2 separate regions of the Homo sapiens genome follow, and region 2 is linked to region 1. The links come from fine-mapping of genetic effects on gene expression. A gene starts in region 1. The other region holds a variant in brackets. All regions are shown on one strand. Distances are between the middles of the regions.

Region 1 (5,501 bases):
CTCCCAAAACATTTATTTCAAATTACTCTTCTTTCTCATTTGTTAATCATAGTTTAAGAAATATGATTAGTAGTTTTAATTCAAAATAAAAATGGTATGTTGAATAAAATATTACATAAACATAAATTAGTATAAAATAATTTAGTAAATTAAATCATTTAATATAAAAAGGAATTCAAAGACATTACAGATTGGCACCACATAATTTAAGTCAGTCACTTTTAGACACTAAATAACTTTAAGAGATTTTTTTTAATGAAGGAACAAATCAAAATGGCTCAGAAAAATCAGATGGAGTGGATACACAAATAAAATACATGTTAATGCTTAACACATTGAATACAAATTTTCTTTATACTAAAGACTTTAAAATGTCCATGTGTTAATTTCTTTTGGAGGTGGAAAAATAGTTTGTCCAAAAAGACACTTTTCACAGTTGAAGGAACTTGAAAGTTCTGTCCCAGTGAGTCCTAATGGTTTTATTTCAGGCAGCAGATTCATTGTCAAATATCTTACTTTTTAAGGTCTGTAGGTTATGCTGAATAAAATTCTCTGCACCATGAACTTCAGAGAATCTGAAGTCACTTCTCCTGACAGACCAGTTTTTCATTTTTATTGAATTCTGAATTGTGTCCGATGTAAAGTAGTAAACTATAGGGTCAAAACAACAGTTGGAAACAGCAATACAGAGAGTGATTGGGTACATTGTCCTTACTGCTGCCACTACTGAGCAATTAACAAATGTTTGTGTTCTCACAAGAGAATATAAAATAAGATTGATATTGTAAGGAACAAAACAGAAACAGAATATGATCAAATGTACAAAAATCATTTTTAAAACCTTAGTTTTGTTTATTTTGCTTCTACTTAATGTAACAGGTTTGGTTAAAGTTTTTAGCACCATACTAGAACAAGTTACATTTAAAATTAGAGGAATAAAAAATCCCACTATTTCGATGAAAATTACAATCCTTGAGAGATATGTTTTCCATGTGGCTTCTGGAAAATTTTCAAAGCAGGCTTCTGAGGCATTGTTACCCTGAGAGTGGGTAGACTGAACAAAAACGGCGGGTGCACTTCCTCCGATCACAGTTAACCACACGCCAGTGCAAACAATCTTTGCATTTCTTTTGGTTCTTAGAGTCTTTGACTTAAATGGGTAGACAATTGCCAGAAATCGATCTACACTAATACAGGTTAAGAACAGAATGCTTCCGTACATGTTGGTATAAAACAGCATCACAGAAATCTTACAAAGTAAATCTCCAAATGGCCAATTCCGTGTTGTGAAGTAAAAAATCCTGAAGGGTAAAGTAAAAACAAAAAGCAAGTCTGACATTGCCAAGTTAATCATGTAAGTTGTAGTTTCATTTCGGACTTTGAGGACGCAGATGAAAATGTATATGGCAACACAATTGGATATTAACCCAAGCACAAACACCATGCTGAACATGCACCCATACAAAGTGTACTTAAAGGAGTCATTATAGAAGCAGTGGGAGCTGTTAACGCTTACCATCGTAAAGGCACGTCCAATTTTCAGTTTGGAAGCACTTTCATCAGCTGCAGTCTCCTTTGGGATTCAGATTATAACCTCTATAACCTCCAATTTATTTGCAAATTATCTGGATCTTTGGATGGTTTTATAAATATTTCCTTTTTCTCAGAAATACCCAAAAGAAACATGAAATTTGTTGCTGTAAAATTTCCGCTGGGTTCTTCAACAGGAAAATATTTTCATTTGTTAGTCTTTAGAAAATCCATGAATTCCAAGGCTCAGTTAACTGACGAGCAACCTTTAAAAAATACAGTCAACGAGTCCAACCCATAGGATTATAAATTTAAAGAAAAGCTGTGATCTGTGACCAGAATGAAACCACTTGTCTTCTAAACTTGTATTTCAGTAGTCAAGATGAATACTCCAAAGTTAATGTTTCTTTATGCCTCAGAATGTTAAGCTTAAGTTATCAATCTTATTTTCTTTTCAGTGCAGAGTTTCAGAGACTTAAACATTCCCAATTTGTCCCATTTTACTTCTTGCTTCTTTTAAATGAAGTTTTCCTTTTTTGTTTTCCTGCAGTGGATCCCAGATTGTGGGTAAGCAGAAGAGTCTTTTAAAGATTCCGAAATAAACTCCCAAGCTTGTTAGCTCTTGTTGAATTGAGGCCTTTTCCTCAGTTGCCAGTTGTATCTTGAGGTCGCTTTCTCTGAAGTGAAAAAGAAAGGCTTCCTAGATTTGTAATATGACATCACAGGAAGAAGAGGCTGGGTTTGGACAAAGAAACTTTCAGCCCAGTTTGTTTGCACTTCCTTTAATCTGATAATGTGTCTGCTGGGAATATACCTAGGAGGCTTGCAAATGGTCACTGGCTGTTGAACTGCGTGGTCTGCTCATTAACTCTTTTTATGTGGAAATGCCTTCTGCGGTGCTGGCAACCTCTCAGAGTTGTTTTGATTTGTTTCAGTAGTAATAATTGAAAGAAAAAAATCACTATTCAGCCTGTTCTCTTATTCGATTGTTTTCGTGTTTGGGATATGACAATTTAGAAAAGAAAATGTGTATGGGTGTGTATTTATAAATTGAAATTGTTAGTGATATCTTAACATAGCATTTCAAAGAACTGTTTAATGACTATGAAACAGGGGCCTTTAACCTTTAAGGTATAACAAGCATTTGACTCTTGGTTTCTGAAAAATACTCAATATTTAATTGTTATCATTATGAGTAGCTCTTATCCTGGGTCTCATTAGTTTTTGATAAGCAATTTTCTAACATTCTTTCCTCTTTCCTATGCAGTTGTATTAATATTTTAGAGCTGTTTAAATTTTTAAATTACTCATTTCTCCAAAAGAACAAACTCAAGAATGTTTATCTTTGGTGTGGTGTTAATTTTACTTTCTAAGCACAAAATGAAATTGCATCTTTTTAAGCAAAATTTTTTTAACCTTAAATTGATTGAAATAAGGTTTAGAGAATAAAAATCCTACTACTTGGCAAAATTTTAGGTTCATAGTCTTATCTTCCTTCTTCCTCCCAGCTCTTCCCTTAACCCCTTAATATGACATTAACTATATATTGAAATATATTTCAGATTTTGTCTCCATCTAAAAGTTTCTATGAATGGTTTATATGTTTATATTTAAAGTATACTCATATTTTGGGCCAGGTGCAGTGGCTCACGCCTATAATCCCAGCACTTTGGAAGGCCGAGGCAGGTGGATCACCTGAGATCAGGAGTTTGAGAGCAGCCTGGCCAAAATGGCGAAACCCCATCTCTACCAAAAATACAAAACTAGCCTAGGGCAATAGTGCGTGCCTGTAGTCCCAGCTACCCAGGAGACTGAGGCAGGAGAATCGCTTGAACCTGGGAGGCAGATGTTGCAGTGAACCAAGATCAAGCCACTGCACTCCAGCCTGGGCGACAGCGAGACTATCTCAAAAAAAAAAAAAAAAAGTATACTTATATTTTAAAGACTCCAAAATCAGAAGAAGAAAGTGTGTGTAAGGTGAGGGTACTTAAATGTAGGTGTTATTTCCTCAAAGATTGAGGATATCACAACCTCTATGGCACATGTTTTTCTTGTTTTAAATATCATTTTCTTCAGAAAAGGCTAGATCTAGTTATGCCTTACTGTTATTATTTTTTTAATTTGGTCTAGTTTAAGCTGAAACTCTTCCTCTTGGGTATTAAGTAATTTAAGAACAATTTATTTTTTTCTCATAAATTACTTAGCTAGCTTAAAAATAACTTATTACAGTAAAATGTTTTGTGTTGTTTTGCACCATTCTTTCACACTCAGCAATTTTTGTCATTTGTTGATGAACTATAATCTATTTCTACTGTCTGGACTAGAAAATTCATCTATTATCAAATGACAAAAAAAGATGAGTATTACTTATAACCAATACTTAAAATTTTGAAGGGTTGAATATCTTTTATATCACATTTGGTATAGAAAAGATGTATGTGTGTGTTCTTATTAGAAGGCTGGTAGAAGCTGAGTGAGCATTAATGAAAAAAGGAGTGGTTAATAAGCTTGTATTCTCATTGGAAAAAATTTTCTGTTAGTAGTTATGTCTTACTGTTATTTTTTTTTTATTTGGTTCAGTATGTTTTAAAAAAACAAAATCTTAGTAATCTTCTTTCAAATTGATAGTCTCCTCTTTAGTCATCTTTAATTAATGAAATATATGCAGTTGTATATGCTGATCTCATCCTACTTTTACTTTCATTTTGAATATGGCGGCATTTTCTCATTCAAATAATTAAAATTTATTAATTCTACTTGGAATATTTTTCTACATATTGTCATTACTCACTTGACTTGTTATTCACTTAAGTCATTCATCTATAGTTTTTTCTTTTCTTTTCTTTTTCTTTTTCTTTCTTTCTTTTTTTTTTCTCACTCTGCCGCCCAGGCTGGAGTGCAGTGGTGCGATCTTGTCTTACTGCAACCTCTGCCTCCCAGGTTCCAGCAATTTTCCCACCTCAGCCTCCCGAGTAGCTGGGATTATGGGCACCCGCCACCACACCCAGCTAATTTTTGTATTTTTAGTAGAGATAGGGTTTTACCATGTGGCCAGGCTGGTCTTGAACTCCTGACCTCAAGTCATCCACCCACTTCAGCCTCCCCAAGTGCTGGGATTCCATGTGTGAGCCACCGTGCCCGGCCTGTTCATTTATAGTTTTTTAATGTTTGAGTTACTGGGGCTTAAAAATGGATAGATCACTATTTGTTGAATTAGGCTTTTCATTATTATCAGTATCATAGTAAATGTTTGTATAATTCTTACCACAATTCTTGGTTCTTTGTAGATGATTCTCACATGTTTGCTGATGAATGAATCATAAACTTGAATTTTGTTGCCAGTTGTTTCTACTGAGGAAGAGCCATAGCAGAGGGACTGTTTGAACAGGAAGAAGATAATTGAATACTGCATTTTTTCCAGATATTAAATTTGGCCTCTAATTAAGGAACCAAAGGGGAATTTAGAAACTTTGAAAAATTCTTAGGTTAGAATTGGAAAAATACAGAGTAACTACTTGCAAAGGGAGGTAATGAATCCATATAATCAATTATATTTAATAGATACTTTTGTATTTGATAAACTCAGGCAAACTGTTATTTTAATGTGAGATCTCTACACTTCTGGAACTTAACTCTGAGAATCAACTTATTTCTTATATGGATTTTTTGGGGGGAGCGAAAATTAAACAGAGCCAGATAGATGTTAAAATGGTGAACACAGGAACAGCTGGAGTCTGCAGCTCCCAGCGAAATCAACGCAGAAGGTGGGTGATTTCTCTATTTCCAACTGAGGTACCCAGCTCATCTCATTGAGACTGGTCAGACAGGGGGTGCAGCCCATGGAAGGCGAGCCAAAGCAGGGTGGGGCATCGCCTTACACGGGAAGTGCAAGGGGCCAGGGAACTTCCTCCCCTAGCTAAGGGAAGCCATGAGGGAATGTGCCACGAGGAACGATGCATTCCGGCCCAGAC
Region 2 (5,266 bases), 180 kb after region 1:
TCTAAAGACCTGAAATCAATAGAAAGGAGTGTCCGGGTTAAGATAAGAGGTTGTGGAGACCAAGGTTCTTATTATATAGGTGAAGTCTCATAGTTGAGACTTCTTAGAGACAATAGTTGGCAAATGTTTCTTATTTAGGCCTTTGAAAGGTGCTAGACTCTTAATCTTTTCAGGATCAGGAGGCCCTGGAAGGGGAAAGACTCTATGTTAACAGAGATTCTTTACAGATGCAAATTTACCCCCATAAAAGATGGCTATGCAGGACCATTTCAAAATATGGCAAAGAAACATATTTTGGAGTAAAATATTTTGATTTCCTTCTTTATCTGTCATGTGATGTTATACTAGAGTCAGGTTGGAATTTGATGTCTTATTGCTACAAGGTAGCAATAAGATCTCTCTTTTAATGTTAATGCGGGTCAATTGTGCCTGAATTCCAGAAAGGAATTCCAGAAAGGAGAAAGTATAAGGAGACACATCTGACACCCTGTCTTCCCCTCATAGCCTAAACTAGTTTTTCTGGTTTTCTTTCGGTCCCCCTGAATCCAGAGGGGTCCATTCAGTCTGTTGGGGAGCTTAGAATTTTATTTTTGGTTTACAGGGGCCATAGCATTTAAACTTCATTACTGTGTAAAGTTAAAGGACCAAGTGAAAAATAAGCTGCACTTTTTTCCACCTATTATCTCATTTAATCGTCCTGGGGTGACCACAGTGGGCAAGTATTACAATTTCCTCAGTTTTTTGCATAAAGAATCTGAGGCTCAGAAAGCTGAATAAGGAACTTAGGTCCTTTAATTCTAGCTTCTCTGCCCTTATCATTTCCCCCTTGGGGTTTTCCTGTGGCTGTAATTTAATTTCTTTTATGCAGTAGCTGAAAATAATTTATTTTTTATAATGCTTTTTTTGGTGGTAAAAGCAATCCATGCTCTTTGTTTAACAGAAATAGTACAGTTGACCCTTGAACAACACAGAGGTTAGGGGCACTAACCGCCACCCCCCCCTCACCATGCAGTTGAAAATCCATGTATCATTTTTGACTCCCCCAAAACTTAACTACTAATAGGCTACTGCTGACCAGAGTCCTTACTAATAACATAAACAGTTGATTAATGCATATATAGGGTGTTATATGCATTATAAACTGTAAGCTAGAGAAGAGAAAATGGTGTTAAGAAAATCATGAGGAAGAGAAAGTATATTCACTCTTCATTAAGTGAAGCTGGATCTTCATCTTTTTCTTCACGTTGAACAGGCTGAGGAAGAGGAGGGGGAGAAGGAGGGATTGGTCTTGCTGTCTCAAGGGTGGCAAAAGTGGAAGAGGTGGAGGAGGTGGAAGGAGAGGCAGGAGAGGCAGCACACTCAGTGTAACTTTTATTGAAAAAACCTGCATAAAAGTGCAATTCAAACCATGTTATTCAAGGGCCAGCCGTACAAACCTCCAGAAGAATATAAAGTGAAGAATGCCTGCACCTCCTTCTCCATCCTATTCCCCTAAGGTAATTACTCCAGGGACAGTTTGGGTCCCACCCCAATATTCATTGCATATGTTAATGTCCTGGTGAATTCTATCTTTTATCGAATTTCTGCATCAGGTCTGCCTGTTCTTCCCTCGATGGTTTCCTCACAGCCTCCCACAGTGTGTCGTAAGGAACCCAAAGGGTGTGATTGCTAGTGTCATGCTTGCTTGGTGTGTGTCCACTGCCTGGGGCCTGGCACTCTGCCTCAACCCACCTGAGGGCAGGCGTGCAACCCAGCCCTTCATGGATTGTTTTACTTTTCTTATTTACTTCAGGAAACATCTCTGTTCCTCTTGAGCATATTTTCTCTCTTTAATTATGGAGTGTTTTTGCCTGGGGAGTGGGTACAGAGGTGAGATAGGAAAAGTGGAAAGGAAGATCATCTTGTCGGGATAAGTGAATGAAGTCCTCCTGCAGAAAGATTTTCCGCAGGTGGTAGGTCGCGAGCTTCAGGGGGCCTGTTGTGAGATTTTGCCGCAGCCTGAATCATTATTTCAAACAAGGTGCAGCAGGGTTTAGCTTTCTGCTTTCCCTGAAGGATTTGTCAGGGTAGCTTAGTGTTTTGATTAATTAACTTAAAGCTGGGATTCTATATAAATGCAAATTGTCACCTTCCCCCACCCATTCAGTCCCTTTCAGGCACAGAAATGAGTAAGAGCTGGGGAAAATGAGGTGGAGTTGAAATTGCCAGCTGTCTGTGGCCTCATTTGAATTTTCAGGGGAAAGGGGACCCTGACTGTGCAAATGCAATACTCACAGTACAGCATTTGCAAAATGGACCAGCTGGAGCAGAGGCTTAGCCTTTGCCACCCAGGTCAGCAGCACAACACTAACAGGACAGGAACACAGGGATGCCACTAAGGAATATTTCAGATTTGAACATGCGATGGACTAAATGTGTCCCCCCAAAATTCATATGTTTAAATCCTAACCCCCAAGGTGATGGTATTTGGAGGTAGGGCCTTTGGGAGGTGATTAGGTGATGAGGGTGGAGTCCT[C/A]ACAGATGGGATTAGCACCCTTATAAAAGAGACTCCAGAGAGCTCCCTCCCCGCTTCCTCCATGTGAGGGCACAGTGAGAAAACAGTCGTCTACGAACCGGGAAATGGTCTCTCAGCAGACACTGAATCAGCTGGCACCCTGATCTTAGACTTCCCAGCTCCAGAACCGTGGGAAATAAACTTCTGTTGTTTATAAACAAGCCAGTTTATGATATTTTTGTAATGAACTAAACAGAATGCACAGCCTGAAAGAACTAAAACAGAAGGGGGAAAATGTCACAAAAAGTCTGATCTTTGTAGAGGCAAAGGAAAGCACATTTATGGAATTGTTAAAGTGTCAGGCCTCTGAGCCCAAGCTAAGCCATCACATCCCCTGTGACCTGCACGTATATGCCCGGATGGCCTGAAGTAACTGAAGAATCACAAAAGAAGTGAAAATGGCCTGTTCCTGACTTAACTGATGACATTCCACCGCAAAAGAAATGAAAATGGCCGGTCCTTGCCTTAACTGATGACATTACCTTGTGAAATTCCTTCTCCTGGCTCATCCTGGCTCAAAAAGCTCCCTCACTGAGCACCTTGTGACCCCCACTCCTGCCCGCCAGAGAACAACCCTTCTTTGACTGTAATTTTCCTTTACCTACCCAAATCTTATAAAACGGCCCCACCCTTATCTCCCCTTCGCTGACTCTCTTTTCAGACTCAGACCGCCTGCACCCAGGTGAAATAAACAGCCTTGTTTCTCACACAAAGCCTGTTTGGTGGTCTCTTCACACGGATGCGAGTGAAAAAAAGCACATTAGATTTTGACTTCAAATTTATTAGTCACTGATGTTTAATTTCCATGCAAGGCAGAGTGTGGGTGTGGAAGGGAGGACTCGGAGGGTGACAGGGAGCAGGTGTACCACCCACCCCACACCCTACGGCCTCACCTCCTTGACAGGCAGGGAAGAGCCAGACTGAGTGGTTACACATTCCTGGGCTGCCATGAATGGCGTGGGTGAACTGAGACATGAAACCTAACCTCTGGGGCCACTGGATATCTGTGGACGTGAGAGTCACCTCACAGGAAAGCTGTGGACATTTGACAAGATGTTTTTGCAAGTTGCACCTGACAACTCCCTAACAAATACCAGCTGATGTAAGGATGACTTTGCCCCAGTAGGGTTTTATTATTTCTTTGCTTTTGATACTTTTCTACCAGGACCTGCAGAGGGTGGCAGAGTGCTTTGCTGATCTGTCCCTTCTTCCTGCCTCAGGTTCTCAGGGCCAATTTCCCCATTAGGTGGAGCAGGCACTGTGCCTAGAGCCCATGAGACTTTTAGGGACCCATGAAAGTGTTTTAATTACTTTCAAAATCAGAAGAAAAAATAGAATATTAATGAATACCTAATAATGAATCTAGACTATGTCAATTTTTAAACCAATACAGTTGTTTCAAATACAATTTTTAATTTTTTTTTTTTTAATGAAGAGGGAGCCACGGAGGCAAAAGTGCTGTCAGCCCAAGAATGTGATAATGCCACCCTGTAGGTTCTGGAACTCACCTCAGAGAGTGAGTTGGCAGCATGGGTTGCTGCTTGCTGTTGTTTGCTCAGGTAATGGAACAGGTGGAGCCTGAAAGGAGATTTGTGTAGTGAGTATGGTAAGCCATGCTGACTTCAGTGTGGGAGTGAAGAGGACCACGTCAGAGCATTTTTCAGAGAGCTGAAGGTTGCATCTTAAATCTAAAGTGGTTGCTTGTCGACACTAGCTATTTTTGATGAAAATTTCCTTATCATGCATTGCATACCCTAGCCTTCTTTGTTCATTTTTAACTTTTATCAAGAAAAGGTATGGATATATGTGTATACAAACATATACACATATATGTAAGCACAAATACACACGTATGTGTGTGTATACACTTGTGTGTGTGTTAGAAGCATTCGAACCAGAGTAACTCCATCTTGAATAGGAGTGGGTAAAATAAGGCTGAGATCTATTGGGCTGAATTCCCAGGAGGTTAGGCATTCTAAGTCACAGGATGAGGTAGGAGGTCGGCACAAGATACAGGTCATAAAGACCTAGCTGATAAAACAGGTTGCAGTAAAGAAGCCGGCCAAAACCCACCAAAACCAAGATGGTGATGAGAGTGACCCCTGGTCGTCCTCACTGCTAACCTCCCACCAGTGCCATGACAGTTACTAATGCCATGGCAACATCAGGCAGTTACCCTATATAGTCTAAAAAGAGGAGGCATGAATAATCCACCCCTTGTTTAACATGTCATCAGGAAATAACCATAAAAATGGGCAACCAGTAGCTGTCAGGGCTGCTCTGCCTACGGAGTAGCCTTTCCTTATTTCTTTATTTTCTTAATACACTTGCTTTCACTTTACTCTGTGGACTTGCCCCAAATTCTTTCTTGCTCAGGATCCAAGAACCCTCTATTGGGGTCTGGATCTGGATGCCTTTCCGTTAACATGTATATATATATTTGCCATATATATGTCAAATAGTAGTAAAAGACTTAAGACAAATGATGGGATTCAGGACATGTCCTGAATTCTCCTATGACTTTAGGAGACCAGAAACATGCCACCCCCAAATATGCCTCTTTAGCATGAGGATTATTTTGAGCTGATTATTTTGAGAAACTGCAGCAGAGGAGAATCTCTGAAAACAACAGTAGAAGTTACCCTTTTGTAAGGAAAGTTTATGTCTATAAAGGAGATCTCCATACATAAGGGTGTCTTCCTGTCTGCAACA

Alleles and levels. Alleles are on the strand shown, and positions count from the first base shown. SD is a standard deviation of normalised expression in the study named.
For the expression in anterior cingulate cortex of the gene that starts at base 2,209 in region 1, C is the low allele of the variant in region 2 and A is the other (small effect, 0.26 SD a copy in GTEx).

Evidence for each region. PIP is the estimated chance that this variant, and not a neighbour inherited with it, causes the effect.
Region 2: its variant is the best candidate, but not a certain one, in a credible set for the expression of LPAR6 in anterior cingulate cortex (GTEx, PIP 0.56).

The regions. Positions count from the first base shown.
Region 1 is chr13:48,410,905-48,416,405 of GRCh38, forward strand. It overlaps LPAR6 (lysophosphatidic acid receptor 6), which reads right to left and starts at 2,209. Exons shown (of 1, transcript NM_001162498.3): 1 at 234-2,209. The coding sequence starts at 1,519. The coding sequence ends at 485. All of the region lies in intron 17 of RB1 (RB transcriptional corepressor 1), which reads left to right. RefSeq lists an enhancer at 693-1,194.
Region 2 is chr13:48,592,086-48,597,351 of GRCh38, forward strand. The region is part of intron 2 of LOC105370202 (a long non-coding RNA gene); the gene reads left to right. Among named protein-coding and RNA genes, the nearest start is that of LINC01077, 4.1 kb to the left of the region's middle. The variant C/A (reference allele first, on the strand shown) is at 2,516.